Linked DNA regions of Homo sapiens. The protein of the gene in region 1 purifies or fractionates together with the protein of each later gene. This does not show direct contact. Each region holds a gene or a part of one and is shown in the gene's direction. Other genes may lie near its edges.

The links.
Region 2: the proteins of PCYT1B (region 1) and RAP1GDS1 purify together in Homo sapiens (co-immunoprecipitation; one large-scale study listed by IntAct). This does not show direct contact.

What each region holds. Positions count from the first base shown.
Region 1 is NC_000023.11:24,560,204-24,564,028, reverse strand, and holds part of PCYT1B (choline-phosphate cytidylyltransferase B), read left to right. Parts: intron 1-1,523; coding exon 1,524-1,736; 3' UTR 1,737-1,911; coding exon of another isoform or gene 1,912-1,944; 3' UTR 1,945-3,825.
Region 2 is NC_000004.12:98,441,617-98,444,429, forward strand, and holds the end of RAP1GDS1 (rap1 GTPase-GDP dissociation stimulator 1), read left to right. Parts: intron 1-373; coding exon 374-501; 3' UTR 502-2,242; downstream 2,243-2,813. UniProt on the Homo sapiens protein: Acts as a GEF (guanine nucleotide exchange factor) for the Rho family of small GTP-binding proteins (G proteins) that stimulates the dissociation of GDP to enable subsequent binding of GTP.

The sequences.
Region 1 (3,825 bases):
TTGTATTTTAGTAGAGAAAGGGTTTCACCATGTTGGCCAGGATGGTCTCGATCTCCTGACCTCAAATGATCTGCCCGACTTGGCCTTCAAAAGTGCTGGGATTGCAGGCATAAGCCACCGCGCCTGGCCTTGGATTCTTATTGCAACGGGCTCATAAGTGGGCTCCCTGTTCCTGCCCCCGCCTCACTGCCATCTGTTCCCAACACAGCAGTCAGAATGGTCTTTTGAAAACAAGCAGCAGATTGTTAATCCTTTGCTCAGAATTCTCCAGAGGTTTCTCTTCTCAGAGGAGACTGTACGTGAAACTGCCGCCTGATATGTCTCTGGCCTGATCTCCCGCAGTGCCTCCCCCTCTCCCTTCCCCACCAGCTCGCTCCATACTGCCACGATGGCCTCCTCCTCTCCTGGGACCTGTTGCATGGGTCCCCTCAGACTGAAAGGCAGAGTTCTCACAATGGCTGCCAAGGCCCTCCATGGCACAGCCCTCTGTGCCTTCTCTGGCAACCTCTTCCCAACCGCCTCCCTCAGCTCCTCCCCATCTATCAGCCCTCAAGGCAGCCGCGGTGCCCTGCCTGCGCTTCCTGGGTGTGCGTTCCATGCTCCTTTCTTGGGGTGCTCTGTCTGGAGTGCGCTGCCCTCTGATTTCCATTCACCTGGTCCCTCCCCTTATCTCTTCCAGGTTCTTCACTCAAGAAGCGTTTTCTCAGTGGGGCCTTCCCCGAGCACCCTGTTTGCAATCGCAGCTGCCCTGCTCCCAGCCCCACTTGCTATCCTCTCGCCCTCTTTTTCTCACAGACCACAGATCCATCTGACATACCATATTTTGTTTATTGTGTGATTCCTCCTCATATCTGTGAGGGTATGAGGTCAGGGGTTTTGTTTTCTGCCACCCCTCCAGTCCGTAGGTCATGACTACTTGCCTGGCTAGTCAGAGACACTCAGTTAAATTTTGTAGATGGAAGAAAAAAAAGGAAGAAGGAAAGAGTGTTAAGAACCAGTGGTAGCTGGGCATGGTGGCTCACGCCTGTAATCCCAGCACTTTAGGAGGCTGAGGTGGGTGGATCACCTGAGGTCAGGAGTTCAAGACCAGCCTGACCAACATGGTGAAACCCCGTTTCTACTAAAAATACAAAATTAGCCGGGCATGGTGGCGGGCACCTGTAATCCCAGCTACTTGGGAGGCTGAGGCAGGAGAATTGCTTGAACCTGGGAGGCTGAGGTTGCAGTGAGCCAAGATCATGCCACTGCACTCCAGCTTGGGTGACAGAGCGAGACTCTGTCTCAAAAAAAAAAAAAAAGAGAAAAAAAGAACCAGTGGTGACTGTAATCTTCTGTCACTACCCCTGAATATCACTCGGTTCCTTACTATACATAGTCTTGGACAACACGGGATGTGGTATGAGTGTAGGTTTGTGGGCTCAGGAGTTTTGGGGTAGTGGCTCTCCTGCCTGCCTTACCTTTTTGTTTTGCTGCTGCCTCAGATTGCAAAGTTAACAGATGCCTTCTCTCCAATTTATCTTTAGAAGCAGATGTTCCAGGAGAGGAGCAGCCGGATGCTGCAGGCCTTATCCCCGAAGCAGAGCCCTGTGAGCAGCCCAACCCGGAGCCGGTCCCCTTCCCGCTCCCCATCGCCCACCTTCTCATGGCTTCCACTCAAAACCTCACCCCCTTCCTCACCCAAAGCAGCCTCAGCCTCTATCAGCAGCATGAGCGAGGGGGATGAGGATGAAAAGTAGAGGCTGCTGGGAGGCAAGAGCCGCACCATGCAGGATGGGGAGGAGGGCGAGAGTCACAGGGTTGCCTGGGTGGTGTTTGAAGGGTAATAGTCACAGGAGCTGCAGCTCAGCAGAGAGACCCTGAACTCTGCTAAGGGAAGGTCTTGGGACCAGTTCTCTCTCACTCTCCGTACAGCTGAAGAGTTGGGCGAGGTGCAGAGACTTCTAGCTGGACAACCTACACAAACCTTAGCGTCTAGAGTCACTCTAACCTTGCTAAGGAAGGATGCAGAGTTCCCTAGAGAGACTTGCACTGATGGGGTGACTTCTGCTTTGGTCCTTCCACCACCCCCACCAAGTAAACCACCTGTGGCAGCGGCTGTTCCCTCAACCTGCTACTTCTGCGTCCATAAGGGTCCTGCACGTTGCCTCCCACCACCCCAGCTCTGCCAGAATAAAATTGTTTCCAATAGAGGTGGCAAAGTGCTTCTGAAATAGTCGAGAAAAAGACAGATTCCAACCTCCTCAGTCCAGCCACTGAGACCTGATGTTGGAACGCATCAGCTCCTTCCAGTTCCATGAATGTGGCTCATAGACAAAGCCTTGCTTTAGGCTGGTTATAAAAGGTCATCTAGTGTGAACCTTAACTTTTTATTCAAAGGACAGTTTTGTCAAGAACTCCACGTAAGGCCTGATGTGCTCCTGGTTGTACTTTCTCATCACTGGTTTGACTTCATTGTTTTGCAGAAATTACCTTAATCCGTGGGAACTGCAACAAAGAAAAACTTCCTAATATATAAAAAAGAGGAGCTGCTTTGCTTTGCCTCCAGGTTTAGCGGACAAGAAATGTCTCCTGAAGCTTCTCCTTAAAGGATGCTATTATGGAATGGCTTTTCCCATTTCTGACCAGTTAACAGTTTCATAGACCTCAAGTAACAGTTTGAGGTATCAAACATAGTATACCAATAGGGGGTGCTACCTGCACGTATCTGTTCTATATATGCTCCAATATGTCATCCCCGGGTGTATCCCATGTGCAATATGAGTATATAGTGGTGGCATTTTATAATAGACCCCACTCCTGCGCTCCACCATAATACTCCTCTGAAATCCTTGGTCTCAAGAAACATCTGTTCTCTTGTGACTTGGGCACTTTGTCAAGCTTATTCCAGATTCCTGTGGAAACGTTTTATCCCAACCAGGAAATTAGTATTTTGTTCTCGTGGCCTCCTATAACATTTTTGGGTGAAGGAGAACTCAAGACTTTTTACAGAGAACTGTGGGCTCAGTTATGATCTCAGCATCTGAATGGTCTAGGTAGTATCACCATTATCTCTGGCCCTAGGTTTGCCAAGTAGGATGAAGACTCTAAGTGTTCCTGCTGAGTTGTCCAAAGGTCCTGCTCCTTAGTCACCTGTGCGAAATGAGCAGGGAGAGTTAAGGCATAGAACCAAACTCTTTGGGTTATTGTATGGGTATGCCAGTAAATTCAGACACAGAGCTGGGGTCTGACTGAATAGAGGCCCAAACCAGCAACTTGTAGGCAGAGCCCAGAATCTCTTGTGATAGAAATACCCCTTTTCAGAGGCCTTGGGAACCAGCCTTCTAGGTGACAAGGGGACAACCAGTGAAGGAAGGCGGCATGTCTTTCCCCTTCTTGTTGGGGTTGAACTACCTCCCTATCCACTTGGAGATGAGTGCTGTCTGCTGTGAAGCAAAACTATGAGGCTGAGCTGGCTTGGAACCTCTTTGTTCTTGGCACTTTCCTTCTCCAGGACTCTGGGAAGCACTCATATGGGACAGAGGGCTGGCAGGAACATGGCATGTGAAGAAGAAAACTTCTTTTTGCAGTCAAGGGCCACCCAGAATATTGCTCTTCAGAGAGGGACAAGGGCCTCATTCTTCCATTTGGTCTCTGTCTTCCATCATGCACTCAGGTCAAGCCATGCAAGTCTGCCTACCATTTGAGTTAGTTGGCACTTGTAGCAGTGAAGGATGAGGCCAGCCAGGCAAGGGAAGGTGGCGGGAACAAGGGAAGAGAAAAGGAGGAAAGAAGTTCCTGGAGGGAGGAAAGGAGGATAAAGAAAATCTGCTCTCATAAAACCATTTC
Region 2 (2,813 bases), on another chromosome or scaffold:
CAAGTAGCTGTGCAGTGGCTCATGACTGTCATCCCAGCTACTTGGGAGACTGAGCAGGATGAATCCCTTGAGGCTAGGAGTTTGAGGCTGCAGTAAGCTGTGACCATGCCACTGTACTCAAACCTGGGCAGCAGAGCAAGTCCCCATCTTTAAAATTTTTTCCTTTAATTTAAAAAAAAGTAAAGTTTTTATGATTTTTTTAAATTATAATACATTTCTAAGAAAGACATTGCTAGGCTACTGCTATGTCTTTTTCCAGAATTGTTTCTAGTTTTATAAGCTTAGTCTTGTCAAAATAAACATTTTGGTATATGTTTTGGATAGACTTAGAACAACCTAACAGAATCATATCTGTTATTTTTTTGTCTTCCAGAATGTCTACACAAGGAAGTACAGGATTTGGCTTTTCTAGATGTCGTATCCAAACTTCGCAGTCATGAGAACAAAAGTGTTGCCCAGCAGGCCTCTCTCACAGAGCAGAGACTTACTGTGGAAAGCTGAGAACTGCCCGATACACGGCATCATCCCATCTCTAATTTCCCCTCTGTCCTCCATCCAGCGGCTTCTTCCGCTTCATTCTCTACCATACCACTTGTGCATGCATGTGATGTTCTAATACCAATTGAAGAACCGCTGTAGGTACCTCCCTAATAAGATTTCTAAACCTATAGTTAGTGTGATCATGACTTTGTCAAAGGCAAGTCTCCACCCATAACCGTTCTCTTGTATTCCTGTTGCTTGAGCTACATTAAGTAGAATGTGCATGTTGTAGTCCTATGATGATGTAAACTTGGTACTACATAATGACTTGCTCCACACATGCAGTAAACTACATAATGATGTACTGGTAAACTAGAAACAAAGAATGCAGCAGGATCTGTCTAGCTTATTAAAGATGAAACTGAATTGGAAAAATAGCTCCATTTTTTGGTGCTTGGGAAGCACAGTGACCAAAAAAGTTGTATGGCTGCTTATTCATTAGTCTTTCCTACTGATGTCAAATCCATGGTACCTAGAGTTAAATAAAATTCCAATGCTCTTACTCTTTAACTTCTGGTTTCTCCTTTTTCCTTTTTAGACTATTGAAACTGCCACAAACTTGGCAAGACTTTCTGAGGTTTCTGATTCCATATTTAATTGACTATTATCAATAGCCTGATATTGAAAAACATTTGTAGTTTTCAGTGTGAAACTAAGGGGTTGAAGAATCACTATTACAATCCCTATTACAGAGCATTTCGGGTTTTGCTTGTATTTTAGATTCTGATACATACGCTGTTTCACTCAGGAACTACTTCTACCAGTTAATCAGCATTATCCAGCACTTGTCTTTAAAATTCATTTGGCGCTTGTTTGTTTTCAACTGAGGAAATTGAGTATAGTTCATTGAAGAATGGAATTTTTTTTTTTTTTTTTTTTTTTGCTGTTTTTCATCATTCAGCTAGAAAGTGAGAAGTTTTATCTTCCATAGTCCTTTTAAATCTTATGTTAGAACTAGCAGGACGTAGGTGGAAAGATGAAGAAATAAGCTTGTCTAGACTAAAGAAAGGAAAGCAGGTTATAAAAGCCATAGTAGCCAGTCCAGTTCATTCTGCAGATGGCCCCATACCAATCGCTGTTAGAGTTTGCCACCTCCACTTTCCCACTGAGAACTGCAGCAATTTTAAAGGATATGAGAAAGCCAAGACTCAAGAGATGAGAAGACCCCCTTGGCGAAATATAGTGTACTCTTCACTGCCACTGCCACCACCAAATGGGTTTTTAGAGCTTTGAAACACAATCTTTGTAAATTAATCAAAACCTCCCTGTGACCCACCTGCCTTCTCCCCATACCCAAATTTGACCACTACTGGCCTAAAAGGCAAGATGGGCTTCGATATAGAAGGACTGCAAGACAGTAGAAAGGGCTGCCACGGAGGTGACAGTAGCTCCTTCCTCTCCAACATGTGATGCTACACATCTCTGTGGATAATCTAAGTTGGACTTTTGACTCTAAAACAGCTATAATCCAAGAAAGTTAAATTCTAATGGAGGTAAAGAATCTTGACTGATTGTTCCCTTTGATGTCCAAATAAGGGAACTATTGTGAGTACGTATGCTACACTTACTATAAGAATGATACTGTTTGTTGTCTTTCTCCTGGGCTGGATAGTGGACTATATTTTATTACAGGCTTTGAAAGACATCTGTAATGTTGCATATCTGTTCATATTAATAACTTAATAAATAGTATATGAAGCTATAATGGCATCATTTGGTTTGTTTGTATATTTTGTCTCTATTTCCAGCTCCTAGAATAAGGCTTGCTATTGATGTTCAACAAATATTTGTTGACTGAATGAATGAATCCTGCATCCATGAAGTTTCCAGACTGCCTGAACTAATTCCAGAAAGATAGACTGACTGACTGATAGAAAGTTTGAGATTTGATAGTTTGTCTGACTTTAGGGAAAAAATTTTAACAAAAGCATCCTAAAATCGTAAATGTGAGAGAAGTTACCATCTAGGCCAGCTGCCAGCCATCAATTTGCTAATATGCTAGGAACTCCCATCTCCAGCAAAATAAAGTGCAATTCAAAGTACTCATCATTGTACGGAAAGACCAGAAGGCTGTGCCCTTATCACAGGGGCTACCAAATTAGATGGTACACTGATGTGCCATTGCAGTGGATGGGAGAGTCTACAGACTGTACTCTCGCTTATCTCCTGCTACTAAATCTTAGTCCTAGAGGCCACTATTTATTAAGTTAGTTTGCTACCCACTAAGAGTACATTCTAAGGGAGACAACAGGAGGGAAGAACAGCACAACAAA